Regions from separate parts of the Homo sapiens genome. Here region 1 is linked to region 2. The links come from fine-mapping of genetic effects on gene expression. A gene starts in region 2. The other region holds a variant in brackets. All regions are shown on one strand. Distances are from middle to middle.

What was found. PIP is the estimated chance that this variant, and not a neighbour inherited with it, causes the effect.
Region 1: its variant is fine-mapped to the expression of SLC26A9 in pancreas (GTEx, PIP 0.95).

Annotation. Positions count from the first base shown.
Region 1 is chr1:205,913,704-205,922,517 of GRCh38, forward strand. SLC26A9 (solute carrier family 26 member 9) reads right to left here. Exons shown (of 21, transcript NM_052934.4): 17 at 7,863-8,144; 18 at 6,473-6,527; 19 at 5,137-5,282; 20 at 3,580-3,651; 21 at 1-1,701. The coding sequence ends at 1,654. Among named protein-coding and RNA genes, the nearest start is that of SLC26A9-AS1, 17 kb to the right of the region's middle. RefSeq lists enhancers at 6,330-6,861, 6,862-7,392. The variant A/T (reference allele first, on the strand shown) is at 4,401.
Region 2 is chr1:205,938,630-205,947,443 of GRCh38, forward strand. It overlaps SLC26A9 (solute carrier family 26 member 9), which reads right to left and starts at 4,827. Exons shown (of 21, transcript NM_052934.4): 1 at 4,736-4,827. The region is part of intron 2 of SLC26A9-AS1 (SLC26A9 and RAB7B antisense RNA 1); the gene reads left to right.

The sequences.
Region 1 (8,814 bases), 25 kb before region 2:
CGCCTTCCAAGTTTTGAGTTCCATTGGCAGCCAGATGGCATAATGAATTCACAGAAAAGCAATGCTCCTGGGCCAAGAATGTGTTGGCTCTTGGCCAGCACCCCCTCCTTTAACTCTAAGAAGACTTGTTAGCTGACCAGCTCACTCAACACACAGACACACAACGCAGGTCTGGCTGAAGTTAGAAATGGGGATGTTTTCCTAGGCTGGGCCAGCCCAACCTGTTAGGGAAGGGGTTGTTAAGCTGAAGAAGCTTGAGAAAAGCAGTGATGAGAGGCCAGAAGATTTTCTGTGCATTTCCACTGAAATTTTACAAAACACTTACACATGGAACCTATTTATTTTCAAGTCAACAGTAGGGTTCCTCTCAATACCTCCTTGTACATATGGAAAACTTAACCCCTATTTTCATCTTCATAGGAGAAGATGGCCTGAGGTCCTAAGGGTGTTAAAGAGTCTTCCTGTGCAGGAAGACCCAATCTGGATCAGCCCCTTTCCACATCTGCATGCAGTTAGGGGATGTAGCGGATCCCTGGAGGACTTCCACCTTTGCCTACAGAAGGACCCCATTGTGTCTCTGGGCCACAGGCTGATAAGGAAGAGTTAACATGATTGGCTCTTTGCCAGGTAAAGAAGGATAAGGCAGATTTACCAAAGGGAGGCATTTCCCTGATGGGCCCTGGGGTCAAGGGGGACTGTCTGGGCCCAGGTCCCATCCGTTTTCCCTGTGTTGGTACTAGCACCCTCTTCCCCTCTGAGTCTCTGGGTGCAAAGAGGAATTCCCAAAAGTTTTGTGCAGAATAACTGGTATCTATTACTAGGATGCCAGATGATTCTGCCAGCTACCCATCCCCCTCTTTGGGGTTTCTAGCCAGCCTCCAGGGGAAGGGAGCAGCCTCTGAGGGCAGTGATGTTTCAGGAGGCTGAGGCAGAACCTTAGTGGGCTGTCCCCGGGGAGGTAGCTCTGGTGGTCTCGACGGTCCTGGCCACTGTCCAGGCTAGAGTCTGATGTGCTTGCTGACAGCAGTGGTGGTTTGGGCAGCCTTGGGGATGATGGAGGGGGGGCGCATAGTTACCAAGGCCTAGACTCCTGGGTGTGGAGAGCACATGGTCCCTGGGTGCAGAGCTGCCAGAGACAGAGTTGAGGCAGCTGGGGAAGGCAAGCCAGAGTCCTAACCAAGTTTATCCCTATGTCCGTGACAGCCTGACACCATCTGACACCGAGCCGTGTGGGCTCTGGGACACTTTTTGAAGCTTGTACAGCAGGCCAGCACAGTTGTACTTGTCCTTCTGTTTTTGGCTCACTCGTAAAAGCTGGAAGTCAAGGTGTCCTTCAGCTGCCAAGGACAGGGCAGAGGTGGGTGGGGTGGAGTGAGCAGGAGGCTTGTCCATTGCGGCCAGGGCCTGACGGGTGAAGAGTGGGCTCACCAGACTCTCACTCCTGTAAGGGTAGCACCCCCCTGCTGCTGAGAGGCTCTCTCTGGAGATGCGGGGAGGGAAGGAAGGGAGGAGAGAGGGGGAGAGGAGAGAGGAACCCAAGCTCTGGGGGATGCACTTTCCTCCGCCCGACACCCCCTGTGACCCCAGGCTCATCCTTTATGGAAGTCCCAAGTGCCAGGCACTCTGTAGGCAGCATGAGGACTGGCTGAGCCCTCACAGGGCGGTCAGGGTCTCTGCGTGAAACATGCTCCCGAACATCTCCTGCAGGAACCACAGGAAGGAAGTGGGAGGGGAAGAGAGAGGTTAGACCAGTTGGGGTCACAGTGGCTGCAACCAAGAGGTGACCCTAGGAACCCCTGGCCAGAACAAAGCACCTGTGTGTGTGTGTGTGTGTGTGTGTGTGTGCGAGAGTGTGTGTGAACAGGGGAGAGGCAGGGTCAGCCTAGGAGGTGAACCAGTCCAGCGTGGCAGGAGCAGGTGCTGAAATCTACATGTGAATCACCTCCTGTGTGCTGTGTGACCTTCCACGTGTCCCTCGCCCCCTAATAGCTTCACTTTCCTCATTGGGTAAAATGAGGGTTGGCAGTAGACAAGCTCTGAAGTCCTTTCTCACGTTGATAAGCTATTTTGGTCCTATCCAGGCTTTTTGGAATGTGCTGGAGATTCCAAGAGGGCACCGAAATCAGTCTGCCAAATCTCTGTGGCTCCAGCTCTATTTTCTAATCTGTCCCACCTGCCATCAGCACTGTGAGAGACGGATTCAGAGCACCATGGAGCTCAATGTCAAAAAGAATGGGAAGAGGCACAAAGAGAGACACTACTTCTCATAGACCCAAAGCCAGATTTCTCCAAACCTAGTCATCTGGTTTCTTTTAATTCAGGGCATTGGTGGGGTGGTGTTAATCCAGGGGCCCTATGGGGATGGTGATCCCTCATATCCACATATCTTTTAGGTTTTGTTTTGTTTGTTTTTGAGACAGTCTAGCTCTGTCACCCAAGCTGGAGTGCAGTGGCACGATCTCGGCTCACTGCAACATCTGCCTCCCAGGTTCAAGTGATTCTCATGCCTCAGACTTCCGAGTAGCTGGGACTACAGGCATGCACCACTACGCCTGGCTAATTTTTGTGCTTTTAGTAGAGACGGGGTTTCGCCATGTTGGCCAGGCTGGTCTCAAACTCCTGACCTCAGGTGGTCCGCCCACCTCAGCCTCCCAAAGTGCTGGGATTACAGGTGTGAACCATTGCACCCAGCCACATATTTTTTAGTTCTTAAGGCTTGTCCACATGCAATAATAATTCATTTGTAGACCCAGAATCCATCTATTCTACCATAACGTAAGTTTCTAAAAGGCAGAGGCCTTTGTTTTGCTCACTGCTATGTGCCCATCCTGAACTGTGTCAGGCAAACAGTAGGTACGCCATAAATACCTGCTGAATTAATGAAAGAACAAGTGACTGCCCTGCCAATCTTGTGTGGTGGATGGGACAGGTATTACCTATGTTTCCCCTAATTTCACAGATGATAAAAACTAGGGCCCAGGGTGTATGTGGCTTGCTCAGGGTCACGTGGGTGATGTGTTGGAGAATAAGAATAGATACTGGTTCTCTAGGACTTGGTCCAGTGACTCACCCTCTCCCCACGATAACTTTCAGGGAGTGAGAAGAATGAAAACAAAGGCCAGGCATCGTGGCTTATGCCTGTAATCCAGGCACTTAGGAGACCGAGGCAGGCAGATTGCTTGAGATCGGAAGTTCGAGACCAGCCCAGCCAACATGGTGAAAAGCTGTCTCTACTAAAAATACAAAAATTAGCTGGGCGCAGGCCTGAAGTCCCAGCTACTCGGGAGGCTGAGGCAGGAGAACCTCTGGAACCCGGGAGGCAGAGGTTGCAGTGAGCTGAGATCATGCCACTGCATTCCAGTCTGGGTGATAGAGTGAGACTTTGTCTCAAATTAAAAAAAAAAAAAAAAGAAAAGGAAAAGAAAAAAAACAAAGATGACCACAAATCTTTGTGGCCTTGAATGTGACTGCTCTGGGCTGGAGGTGAGACAGCTGAGTGAACGCCTTGTATTTGACAGCGACCCCATCCTTCCCCTCTTCGCCCTGCTCCCACCCTCACAGCCCCTTCCCTCAGCTCACCTGCTCTAAGTCCCAGTAGCTGCGAATGTCCTCCTCTGAGTCGTACAAGGAGAGCTCAGCATCCCCTGGAGCCTGGAAGGGAGGAAGCCAGTGCAGAATGAGCTTCAGTGACTGAACAGCAAAGTTGGTGCATGGTGGCAGGAAAAGGGACAGGTGGCCGGCTCTGGTTGGACGCTGCTTCCTGACACATGACTTATCCTCTTGCCCCTTCCCTTACCTGCCTCACAAAAACAGCACGGCTGTGGTCTTCCCCCTTATACCAGACAGGTGTGTATCGCGGTCTTCCCTCCTTTGTGGGCCGTTAGAGGCAGGGAAGGTTTTACTCAGCTTAGAAAAACTATTGGCTAGCTGCCTGACCTTGGGGAATTCCTGTCCTCCTGGGAATATATTTTCTAATCTGTTCAAGTCTGATAACCAGCCTCACTTTGCCTGCTTTGTCCCTCACAATGCTGTTGAAAAGGTGTGTGTTTATGTGTGTGATTTGTATCTGTGAATGGTCTATAATATGTAAGTATATATTATATAAAATATAAATTATTTATAAGTCTATGACTAATCAAGTATACATACCAACTAGAGTAGCTGAACATGATTAGGGCACTAACAACTAATGCAGCTTCCTCCAGAATCTCCCTCTTTGCTCTGCGGACAAATTCACGAAGCAGGAAAGCCCGTTGTTTCCCCAGGGTTTCCCTCTAGGCATGGAGGGCAGGAGCCAGCGCCCTGTGTGTTCCTGGGCAGTCTTTCAGCACTTAGAACAGATGGTTTCACCTTCATCAGTCTCTTAAGGCAAAGAGCAAATCATTGCTCTAGGGCCAGAA[A/T]AGCCTTTCTTATGACCCACAGAGGGCAGGGGAGGTTTTTACCCAGGGCTGGGGCACAACAAGAGTCTTGGGAGGCCAAGGGCAGGAGCTGAGCTGGGAGGGGACCCTGAGGGCTAGAGATGACTGGGGATCTGGGCAGGGACCCCAAGGAGGTAGGCTTTTTCTGACTCCCCAGTCTTCTGGAGTTTTAGATGGTGTTATTTGTATCCCATTTGTAACTTACTGAGCTAGTAAATTAAATGTCAAAAAGCTGAGACAAAACTCAGACCCAATCTCTTTATCCCTCACCAGCCTGAAATCTCTAAGCTCCGGTAAGTTAAAATGGGTAGGCTTACTCCCCTCCCCTCCCTTCCCGAAAGCCCCCTTTAGAAAGAGATGAGGAGGAGGCAGGGAACGATGCCAGCAGAGTGGGCCTGCTCTACTATGCTTTGGGTGTTTGTGCAACCAGAAAACTTATATTGATAAAGAATTTTTACAATACACAAAGTGCTTTCAAGTGACACAAAAGATGTAATTATCATTTAACCCTAAAACAAAATAAAAGAAAAATGCAGAGAGGTAGGTAATGTTAGTTGATGGTGCTCATTCTATAGATAAGGAAACAGATTCAGAAAACTGAAATGGCAGACTTGATATTGGAACTTAAACCTTCTCCTGTGTTCTTTCTAATAATGCCTCTTGGTCCTGCTATTTCAGTGCCTTGGAGCCTAGGATTCCCCAGGTGCAAGAACCTTACCCCTTGGAAGTTGTGTCCTGGGGTCACGTCTCTAGCATTTGCCTGGGCAAAGAGGACTGCGTCATGTATGCTGGGAAAGACGTGCTTGCATTCTAGACTCCCATCCTCAAAGACGCCTCCATGGCTAATGTCATTGTACACCTGGGCTAGAAGGAGAAAAGATCACCTTCAGAAAGATAACAGCCATTGTGGATTGGAGCTGGGGGTGGGGAAGATAGTGAGACCAGAGCAGGGATGGGAGAGGCCTGAGGTCCCAGCTCTTGCTGTATCTGAGGGCCATGGCATTGGCAGTGCAATATCAGTTTTGGACGGCAGAGGGCAACATGAACTTGAGGATGCTGAAGTTTCAACCCAGAGCAGAAGGAAGCAGTTTGATTTAGGGAGTCAGTACTTTGTGGTGATTCGAGTGGAAAAGCCTAAGCCATCCTTGAAGAGGCCGCTGCCAGTTCTATCCCCCAAGGACCCATCCTTCCTCTTGTTTTCCCAGACCTTTCCAGCAACTTCCAATGTGTGGCATTGGAAGTTTGTGTGGATTACTCTTAATCCTAGAGATGGTTTCCTGAGGGGGTGTCCAGTGAGGTTGGGGAGAATCCACTGCTTCTAACTCCAGAACATATCATAGCAGGTCATTGCCACTGCAGATTCTCTCCCCGAACGTGGCCATGCGGAGCTTGGGAACTGCAGCCCTGCTGGAGGGGGTCTGACCCAGTGCAGGGAGCTGGGTGTGTGTGTATGTGCCCCTTCACATTCTCCTGTGTGTCTGTGTGCACTTGCTCCCACATCTCTGCACTTTGCGTACATGCTAGTCATGTAAATGTCTGCTGCCCTGTGGCCACGTCCTTGAGGCTGTGTATATGCACCCTTTGGAGGCTGTATGCCTACAAAACTGCATATTTATATGTTCCCTGGGGAATTAGGGTACCGTGTGCTCTATGCCTATATCGATTCACAGAGTTTCTGATTGGGAGAGGATCCCCAAATCCATCTAGTCAACCCTCTCGTTTTACATAGGTAGAAATAGATCCCTTGAGAGATAAAGTGACTCGGCCAAGGATACGTGGCAAATTAGTTATGGGGTAGATTAGAATCCTAGCTGTCCTTCTGTAACTCCATGACCTCCTCACCCCCACTCTGTCACTAAGGCCCCTAGGATGTTTATGCAATCTGACCAGTCTCTTTGGACTTGTACCTGAAGCTTTTATGAGCAGGCAGCAGCTTGTGGGGGATAGCTGGGTGCTCTCGTTTCCAACCTCCTCACTATTCAGACCCCACCAACCTGTTCCTACCCCACACTCCTTGCCAGTCTTTCAGTCCCTAAATGTCCTCTTTCTCTTACCATGGATGTTCACCAAGAAGACCTTCACGCCGATCTTCCCATAGGTGGAGCTCAGCTAGAAGTGTTGTTGGGGTAGGGAGGCAAAAGGAAAGGAATGTTCTGAGTGGGTCTCAAAAGTGATTCACAAAACGTACTTCAGAGGGGAAGCCAAACAAATAAGCAACCCTGAGAGCCCAGCAGCCAAAGACAAAAATAGCAGCAAAGCACACCACTTCTCCCTGGAGTGTTGGCTGACGGTTTCTCTGGGAAGTGGAGCGGAAATGGACTTTTGCCAACGTGGCGGGCACTTAAAGTCACCATGGCCCCTTCTTGTGGGGCTAGATATTTTCTTTTTTTTTCTTTTGAGATGGAGTTTCACTCTGTTGCCCAGGCTGGAGTGCAGTGGCGTGATCTTGGCTCGCTGCAACCTCCGCCTCCTGGGTTCAAGCAATTCTCTGCCTCAGCCTACCGAGTAGCTGGGACTACAGGGGCCCGTCACCACACCTGGCTAATTTTTGTATTTTTAGTAGAGGCGGGGTTTCACCATGTTGGCCAGGCTGGTCTTGAACTCCTGACCTTGTGATCCACCTGCCTTGGCCTCCCAAAGTGCTGGGATTACAGGAGTGAGCCACCACGCCCGGCTGATCTTTTCTTTCAGTAGCTTAGATTCTCAGACTTCTTTGTGGCTTCAGACAGAAGCTGCAGGGGAGGATGGAGGCTCAGGGAGTCTAGAGCTTCAGCCAAGGCTGGCCTGGACTCCAGATCCTGGCTAAGGAAGCCGGCTGAGGCCCAAGGCTGGGTATGGGGCCTGCCCTGCGCCTGGTTGATGGTGAAGGCAGTCCGAACACTCTCTGTGCCCATTGTTCCCCTGGCTTGCCTCTATCTGAGCCAGCTCTGAGGTTTGCTGACTCCCGCCATTGGCGGTGGCTGCTGGAAAGTTATCAGATGGATACATTCATTCAAGGTGTCCCGTGGGCTCTCTGTTTGGCCTGATGGTGTGGGGCACTGGTATTATTCCTTCTCCTGTCCTAGGGTGGCCGGTGAATGAGGGACAAGGGCAGCAGATCATGAACCAGGAGCCAAACCGGACCCTCCTCAGAGAACCTGGGTGGGTTCCTGATGGCTGAGAGGGACTTGGGATGGCCACTGCTGGGGGTGTTGGGAGCACAGGGGCCTGAAACTCTGGTAGACTTGTCCCGCCACTCATTGTCATGGGCCGTCTGGGCCTGCTCTGTGGAGAATGTCTCAACCTGGTGGCGTCTGGGGAAAGGAGGGATTCCTAGGAGCTGTTAGTCTCCCCAGTGAGCTTCCTCCCTCAGCTTCCTGAAATGAGGGCTCCCAGGAAAGGGAATGTGGAGAGCAGAGCGGAGGGGGTGGAGTGGGTGGTGCTTGCTGTTCCCGAGGGCCTCACCTTGGCCAGGGCCTTGATGCCCATCAAGTCCACGAAGCTGACTCCACTCATGTCCAGGATGAGGGTGTGGAAGGTGACGAAGGGTGGGACGCTGGCCAGCATGTCACTGGGCTCGCCGGGGGCCTCAGCGGAGGCTGGTGGCTCACTCTGGGCAGGTGAGGAGCTGTCAGGGCTGAAGGTGATATAGGACACGCTGGTGCCGTTAGCCGGGGTCTGGTTGTTGTTGGGGTCGGTGGGGGGCGCATTCTCAAAGTCCTGCTGCAGCTCCTGCAGGGAGACAGTCTGGAAGGGTGGGGACAGTGGGCAGAGTCAGGGACCACCAGACTGAGCCAGACCTTGCTGTGACTGAAGCAGGGGCATGGAGGGTGTAGGTGTAGGGGAATAACTCGCCTCGGTGATGGTGAACACAGACCCTGAAAGCTCCACCAGAGAGGCCTCTCCCAAAGCCCTTTCTTAGGCAGGGCCTGCAAACTTGGTCTCCTACAACCCAGACAAAGTCAGAGGACCCAGCCAAGAGAGGCACTGAAGCCTCAAGCCCACTCTCTCTGGGAGAAAGCCCCTCCGGGGACACTGAGCTCCTTTATTTCTTGAGACAGAGTCTCCCTCTGTTGCCTAGGCTGGAGTGCAGTGGCACTATCTCGGCTCACTGCAACCTCTGCCTCCCGGGTTCAAGTGATTCTCGTGCCTCAGCCTCCTGAGTAGCTGGGATTACAGGTGCCCACCACCACGCCTGGCTAATTTTTGTGTATTTTTAGTAGAGACAGCGTTTCGCCACGTTGGGCAGGCTGGTCTCGAACTCCTGAACTCATGAGAGTGATTCTCCCATCTCGGCCTCCTAAAGTGCTGGGATTACAAGGATTACTGCCATGGCCACCCCAGCCTTGCTAGCCCTGGGCTGCCTGGGTTCCCCAGGAAATTCACTGCTGTTCCCCCTCTGGGTTGTTCAAAAGTC
Region 2 (8,814 bases):
TTACCTGAGGTGCCCTGACTCATTTCTGCCTTTCTAGATCTGCCCATCCTTAAGACCTGTTGAAGTTCCTCCTCCAACCCTCTCCTTCCTCTCCCACTCTTTTCCCTTCTCCTTCTTGCCTATGAAGCCTTTCCTGACCACCTTGAAACCCTGAAGGATTTCTCTTTCTCCCAGGATCTCCATGTGCACCCCTCCAGCCTGTACACTAGTGTTGGCTTTGGCCATTTTTCTTTGGGAGGAAAGCGGCAGGGGTGGTGGAAGTCCTTCAGAGAGCAACAGGTAGGTGACTCAGGACCAGCTCTGCCCCTCTGGGCAGACTCACTGACAGATGGAGCACCAGATACTAGGGAGTCCCCTCTGACACAGGCTAACAGAGGAAAAGCCTCCCTTGCTTTACTGGAATACCAAATCTGTCTCTTTCCCATGCCATCTGCCCATCCCAGGAATAGGATGCTGAAGGGGAGAAGGCTCTGGGAGCTTTCACAATCCTGAGTTTGCATAAAGAGGAGAACCCAGCAGCCAGTCAGAGTCAGAAAGTTTTGTGTAGAAGAGAACTTGAGGACCACATTTGTCCAATTGTCTCATTTTGCAGATAAAGAAACTGCACTTGATTTAACTCCAGTGTTCCTATTCGAAGGGGCTTCAGACCTTCCAGGGACAAAGCTGATCTCAGGACAATGTTTTCCCCTGAGTGGCACTCAGAATGCCCCTTTCTGACCACCCTGGTGACCTTGCCACCCCAGCTGATGGGACAGGACCTCTGGGTTCTGTTACTCCTCTTGAGGGCTCTGGTTCCCTCCTGGCCTTGGTTTCCCAAGAATATGATGGCCAGAGTTGCAAATCTGCAGCCACAGGAACTGCCCCAGCTCCTGCTGAGAAGGCGCCCTCAACATACTTCCTAATTCCAAGAATAGGGGTTGAGGTGGGGTGGGACGTAGAAGACAAGGGTACTTCATCCCCAGCCAGCCCTTCAGGTGAGGGCAAGAGGTGGAGGGAAGGGGGATGGGAGTGGTGGAAAAGGGTGGGTGGCATGGTGGGGAGGAGGAGTCTCAGAGAACTAGCAGGGATGGGAGTCCCAGGGAATCCTCAGAGAGGGTGTCTCACGATGCCAGATGCTACATTAGGGGCAGGAAAGTGGAAGAGGGAGCAAGAAAGAGAGCCAGGTATAGGGAACATAACAATCTGATCCCCAGTTAAACAAACAAACAGCCATGATAAGTGATGTCAGCATCGCTGGAAAAAAAAGTCAAGTGCCCTATTGCCAGAGGCGTGTATCTACAAGCCCTGCCCCCACCACCCCTCCACTGCCTTCCATCCCCCTACCGGGCCAGGGATAAATAGCAGGTGCCATGTGATAATACTGAGAAACAAAAGGGTGACCCTGCCCCTCCTCCACTGTGCAGGGAAGGGGGGCAGGTCCTAAAGAGCTGGAGGGACTTAGAGGGGGTCTGTAGGGTTTAAGGGGAGTAGGGGGTGAGCCAGGAGAGCAGAGGGCAGGAGATGTGGGTGCATGGGCCACTCCCATGCACTGGCAGGAGAGTGGGTCAAATCTGGAGCAGAGGGGATGCAGGGGTCGTGCGAGCCGGAGTAGCTGGGAGAGGGGAAGCAAAGAGAAAATAGACCCTGCAGGGAGGGCACAGGCTGGAGCAGATTCCCTCTTGAGATTCTCCAGGATTTCTCCTCCAATGAGCTCATGCCAAAGCACGCCCCTGGTACCTTCTCCCAGTCACATTTCTAACCAGGTCTCTGTCAACACCATCCAAATATTGTAGGCAGAGATGGGCTTGGGCAGAGATGGGCTCAGGCAGAGACAGTGCCCGAGTGGATGCACTGAAAGGCTCGGAACGGCACCTGGCCATGGGAAGCATGCAATAAACTCCAACTATCATCATTACTGCTATGACTCCAGAGGAGCCTCTTTCTTGCTCTGCCATCTCTAGTGGGCACTCTGCCTTTTTTTGGCTTGCCTTTTTCCATCTGCCCCTATACCTGCTGCCCCATGCCTTAACCCCTCCAAATTTTCCCAGGACTTGATGAGAGGAACAGCAGAAAATCTTGTCAGAAGAGGGTAGAACATCTGCAGAGCAGGACTGTGAGGGGTCCATTTGTGGGTTTTGGTTGGATCTGGAGGTGATCCTGTCACTGTGGGCCAGGCTGACTTCCTCCCTCAGTCCTGTCGGGGGTGTGCATGTGAGGGAGGGGGTTTTTGACGCATGTGTGCCAGGTACGGGAACAGCCCCGGCTGGGCCAACCCACCCTGGCATCCTTATCACTGGTTCCTAGCCAGCCGGTTGCTGTGTTCTGGGAAGAGGAAAGGTCACCTTGAGGTTTCCCCTTTGCTCTAGCTGCTGGTTGCCTCCCTGCCTCATCCAGGGTGGGGGCCACAGGGTAAGAGCAGCCTCTGAGTGACCCAGGTGTGAATGTGAGCTGGGACAGACAAGCTGGCTGGGGTCTCAGTGGGAGACCACATCCATGGCAGGAGGAGGAAGGATGTAGAGGCCTCTGCACCCCTAAGGCTTTTTTGTTTGTTTGTTTTGTTTTTTTGTTTTTGTTTTTTGAGGTGGAGTCTCCCTCTGTCACCCAGGCTGGAGTGCAGTGGCACGATCTTGGCTCACCACAGGGTGCACTTCCTGGGTTCAAGCAATTCTCCTGCCTCAGCCTCCCTAGGAGCTGGGATTACTGGTGCGCGCCATGACACCCAGCTAATATTTTTTATATTTTTAGTAGAGACGGGGTTTCGCCATGTTGGCCAGCCTGGTCTCGAACTCCTGACCTCAAGTGATCTGCCCTCCTTGGCCTCCCAAAGTGCTGAGATTACAGGCTGAGCCACTGCGCCCAGCCCCCCAAGGCATTTTTAAACACTCCTTTTCCTTCTACTGTCCCTGTGTTTCCAGGGCAAATCTCTCCCTACTCCTCACCCCAGCCTAATTTCCTCCTCAGTGTAGGGGAGGATGAGATGTCCCTAAGGTGTCTTAGAGACTGCATCCCGTGTAGGAGAGAGATTCACTGATACCACCCCCCAAATCCCCACTCCTTATCTCCAGGCGAACTCTCCCTCCTCTGCACTTTCCCTGCTGGGAATGGGTGCTGGGCTGAGGAAATAGGCTCCAGAAAGAGGGACCAAGGCTAGACTTTGAGAATCACTTCCTAACAGCAAGACTGACAAGGTCATGGGCTCCCTGGAATGGGCACTTGAGGTTAAATTCCTAGAAGTCTTTAAGGAGACTGGGGTTGCTTTCACTTGGAAGCAGGGCCTGGGCAAGGAGACCAGTGAAGGGCCCAGCTGCTCTGGTCCCAGAAATCCAGGCGAAAGCCCAGAGAGGCATCCAGTGAAGATCAACTCCCCTTGAAGGGGTGGCTCTGCCCCTTCCATCTTCCAAGTAGTGACCCCACAGCCCCCAAAGCTTGGTCAGTGTTGAGCTGGTCCTCGATTCCCCCAGCAAGTTCACGGGGGTCAGTCTGGCTGTTTAGTACGGTTTAAGAGGCACTCTTGAATACTGGGTATATGCCAATCTCCGGAAGACTCTGGGCATTAAAAGATAAAGAGGAGTCCGTCTCTGCCCCAGGGTTTATACAAATGAGACTCAGAGAGCAGGTGGCTAGCTCTGGGAAGTGCCTGGGAAGGCCTTCCTGGCAGTGGAGGTGCTCTTGGCCATGCTGGTCTCCATGCTGCCCAAGCAGGGTCTTGCCAGGTTCTGGATGCCAGGGCCAGGATGAGGGAGGTGGGGGAGGACTGTGGGGTTCTGAGAAAGGGTCATCTGCATGAGTGAAGCCACTCAGGGGGAAAGCCCTCTCTCAGTCTGCCCACTTGGGGGGCTGCGTCACTCCAGGGTCTTCTGGTCCTCAGACCCGTGGGGCCAAGTGTAAGGGGGCAGTTGATGCTGGAATAATAGAAGCTTTGTTAGGTCTCAGCTGGGGACCCTCTGGGCTGGTTTTGAGGAATGGGGGCACTGCCTGAGAGTGGCTTGGAACCCCTTGGAGCTGCAGGATGAGGGGTTTGGAGGCTGAGAGCCTGGAGAGCTGGCTGCCCATCCACTGTCCTGGCCCAAGCCCTTCTGTGTTGAAGCATTCACCATTGAGTCGGGCGTCCCAGGTCCAGCTACCGCCCACCCGCCTGCCTGATGGAGCTGGTCCCTTGCTCACCCTCTCCCACTCCTCAGTTTCCTCCCCCTCCACCTCTTCCAACTTCTCAGGACTAATGGGGACACATGGGATTCTGTGTAGTCCATGCTAAGTTCCCCGAGCTGGTGGAGAAGTACATGAGTGAAGGAGGATGTCTGGGCGGTAGAAGGAGGGGGAGACAGCCATGCAGAGTAGGCTGGTGAGTCAAGCATTAAGAGCTTTTCCCTCCAAGACTTGAAAAGAAAGGGAGAGGAGCAGCCCACAGCTTCAAAGGCTGTCGCGGAGGAAGGTCTAACATTTTCCTTTCCCTCGGAGGCCTTTGCCTCGCTCTGTTTCGGGGTCTGGCGACCACCACACCCTCACCCTACTTGCTCCCTCAGTCAAGCCCAGCCTTGCAGCCCAGGTCCTTACATAGACGTGAAGACCCAAAGGGCTCCTCAGAGGGGAAGGGCTGGGAGGCTGCTCTCAGACTCCAGGGGCCAGAGTGTCCTTCCTACTTGTGCTCAGCTTGGCAGTTGGTTCCTGTCATCCCTCCTCTCGGTACCCCTGGTGACTGCCCTCTTGCAGGGATGACCCCAGCCCAGTGGGGTGGGCTGGGCTGGGTGGGGCTTACCAGTGGGTGAGCAAAGCCGGCTGGGCAGGGCTGCAGGTGTGTCTGGGGAGCGGGCAGCCGAAAGGTGTTCCTGAGGTGTGTGAAAGGGCTCTGCTCAAATAATCCAGGGAGGCGTTTATAAATAACTTTTCCTCAGGGCCACGGGGTGAGCCCCGGCTTCTGATTGGCTCAGAGGGGAAGTGGTTTTGAACACTACACCATAGCTAAGCCTGAGGAGATAGGAAAAGGAGATAAGGGGGAAAAGGTCCCAAATGAACAGCCCTTTTTTTGTTTTACCTGGGGAGCAGGGCTGTGTGATGGGAGCTTGGCACTTCCTAAATCCACCCCGAAGACAATAGGTCACATTCAGCGGGGCTCCTGCCCCACCGGCTCCCCCAAGGCGGCCCTGGAGGAGGGGGACGAGGCAGAGGAGGGGGACAAGGCAGGACAAGCTCCTCTGAGCTTGCTGTCCTGCTGCTTATGGGGCTGGGGGTCAGGCCAAAGAGCCTCTTGGACAATGGGAGCTATTGAGGCCACCTGAGGGGTGTGCTCTTGGGGATGCTTGCTTTGAAGATTGGAGATCTAGGGGGTGGGAAGACAGTAGTCCTCTGAACACCCCTGAGGAAGGGGAAGAACCATGTCTGGGAGGCCCTGGGAGCCTTTAGGCGGTTTTGGTTTGTGGTGGAGACCTGGTTCCCAGTTCTGTCCCCAATGTTAAGTTGCTTGTGAGCTCTGTGCCTTGGTCTATCCATCAGTGCAATGGGGGAAATTATTCCTGGCCCCTCAGGTAGTGTGCAAAGAGAACACAGGGGTTTAGAATCTGATAAAAGAGCTCAAGAAACTGGACTTAGAACAATTATATGAGAGGCGACCTGAAGGCTAGCAAATCTCCAGTCACAGCCCTCTGCCGCTTCTAGGAATTAATGTCTCCCTGGGTCATGGCACTGCTCCGGCTGCTGCCAGCAGAGCTGCCCATCCCAGGCCCATTGAGTGCTACGGAAGGACCTCAGAAAGCAATTGTGGACAGGGGCTGGGAGGGTGGGTAGGGGAGTTTCTTAATTTACTTCCTGGGAGGGAGAGTCACTACCCGACACCAGGTGCCCATTCTTTGAGACATCAAGTGCTGCACTGTCCTCGTCCTCAACTGTCCTCCCATCTCTCCAAAAGAAACCAGAGGCTCTGAAGTGGGCTGGAATCAGTGCAGGGGGCTTCAGTAAGGCACCTCTGGAAGTTGGGGCGAAAGTTCCCCATGGTGAAATGAGCTAGCTTCAGTACTTAATAGGGACTCAATAAATATTTGTTAAATGAATGAAAGAGTGAATTGTCTGCAAGCCCAACCCAAGGGATAGTTTGTAGATGCATTGCTTGTGGGGACTAGGGAAACACCCGAGGTCACTCAGAGTTGTCAGGGTGTAGCCAGACAACTGGCTGAAGAGAGCCAGAATTCAAGTGACCCAAGTGTGCCCTGACACCTGGCTGAGGGAAGGATGTGTGCATGGACACTGCCTCGGGGAGCCCTTCCCCAGACCCCTATGTGGACTTAGCTGACATGTTGCACATTCGTTCCTCTGGCTTCCTCTGCTTCACTCTCATAACACTGACCACAATTAATGGTAATTATGTATGGAATTGTCAGTCTTTCTGCAAACACCGTGAACTCCCTGAGGAGGGCAAGGGGGCAGTGCCTCTTTTGTATCCCTACCCACCTAGCCCAGTGCCCGGCACTTAGGAGGAGCTCAATATAGATTTGAGGAATGAATGAACAATTGTATGATAGAGTCTTTAAACAAAGCAAAGCCAGAGGGCGAGAATTTGTCCATGCATCTTCAGTATTGTCCAGTGTCATGGGTAGCCTGACCTGTTCTAAACTTTGCCCAGGAAATTCCTAGAAAGCAGATGAGTCATTATGTTCTTCCGATAGCCAGGTGACAGTGGCTATCAAGATCAAACAACTAAGTCCCCTTGCTGAGACACCATGTCCACCAGGGAATCTTCTGGTTGTATGTCCTTTAGGGCAGAGAATGCACTGCCCAGCTGGTTGGAGCGACTAGGGCTGCTTTTGCAGGCATGCTTCTCTTTTAAATGACCCATGGACATTCTGGGCTACCCATTGGTCCAGTGTGAGTTTTATTAATGTGAGTTAGTATCCCCTGAGTCTGACCTAGTTTCCACAGTAACACTTGGTTTTCCCACAGGTGATTTGGTTTAATTCTTATACCAAACATATAGGCATGTTACTGTCATTTTTTGATGAGAAAACTGAGTTGACTGAAGTGAAATCACTTATCCAAGATCACAAAGATCTGAATGGAAGAGGCAGGAATCTAACTTGGCTAAAATGGCTTCAAATCCTCTGCTTAGTCTACGATATCATCTTAACCTTTGAGCCTGCGAAGCTAAGGATGAGATCCTACAAAAGACCATACCTTTTAGATACCATTAGGCTCCCTTGCTGGTATAACTCCTAATGTAACCTGGATGAAGACGTCTGGGGCCTCCAGGATACATGCTGGAATTGGAAACTTGTTGTTTGTCCTCCTCAAAACTTTTCTACTGTCTCAGCAAAATTCTGGGCAGGTAGCCCTTGCATTATAGGGGCAGTAGGGATAGACGAACCCAGAGATTCCTCTGAAGTCACCAAGGAAGATGGACAGGGGCCTCAGAATCTGGGGCTGGTCATTGGTGGGAGGCCCAGGAAGGAGGAAACCAGATCAGAGGCTAGGGAAACAGAAGACAGAAGGGGGAGTGCCCCGATGGCTGAAAAGGCATCTTAGGGGTATCTTGGGTAGAATTAAAGTGTGGACAAATTTAGGGTTGGTGGAGGGAACACAAAGATATGGAGAGATAGGTGACAGAAATAGAAACACAGAGAAAAATGATGGAGACAAAGACTCAGAAACAGAGAAAGGAGCCAAGGACACATTAACAGCCATAGCAGCTCAGCCTAGAGTTTTGCTAAATCATTTGTGTTTCATGATGAAAGCGATGAACAGCAACCCTATGCCTCTCTCTGGAGCAGGAGAGAGAATCCTTCGGAAGCAACCTACTTCACCCCCAGCCCTAGGGTGGGATGCTGCATTCATTCATTCATTTATTCATTCACTGGAAACCCCTTATCAAGTGCCAGGATCCTGTCCTGGGGAAAATGAAATAAATCAGACACAATCTCTGTCATGAAAATATCTCACAATCTGGTGAGGAAGACAGGAAGGCGAAGAAACCATTGTAGCATGGAACATAGGGTGCTATGGGAGTACAGGGGAGAGGTGCCCAGATCAGCCCTCCAGCGGACAGAGAAGGAGCCGGGAAGTCTTCCAACAAGAGGAGGGCAGGAAGCTCAGTCACAGCTGTAGCCTGGACACCTGAGCTATAGACCCCAGGTGGGGAAGGACTCCCAGGAAGAAGTAGGATGGCGGCTGCCCCTGAAAGCACTGTTTCTAGAAGGGATTTCCAGCTTGTTCCCAAGTCCTCTTTGACTTCTGAACGCACCCAAGATTCTCTGCCTTAAAGCCCATCCCTGTGTTCCCCTGTGATCCAAAGCTTGCGACCACACACACACACAGTCACACTGAACAGTCACACGTAACACTGAGTTATGCAGATAAACCCAAAGTATTCCTAAGGTTCCCTCCTGACACATCTCACCTCTGAGCTGATCTTGCTAAGAAACAGCTATTTTTCAGATGAGCAAACTCAGGCTAGACCTGCAAAAAGGAGACAAATTCTGCCACCTCTGTCTATCCTTGAGCCTCTGGTCTTATCTGCACCTGCTGGCTTCTTGCACGTGTGCCCTGTGTGGGTGCCAAGGGTGTGGGCAGAAACATGTTTTGGGCAGAGCAGCCCAATGACTTAAGCAAATACCTTAAGGCTAAAGACAGCAAAGTCTTCACCACCCTGCCCTGCAGTGGCAGGATCTGGCCTGGCCCTGCGCGGCTGCCAGTTTCATGAGTGCTTGAGGACTGGTGGGACTGCAGAGGTACCCAAGGAGAAGCGAATCCTCACTTCTCTCCCCTGGGAAGCCCAGGGGCTCAAGTACCCCAGCTGTGAGTATCTTAGGCTGGTCAGGAGACATGGAAGGCAAGGTGAGTAGGGTGATGCCA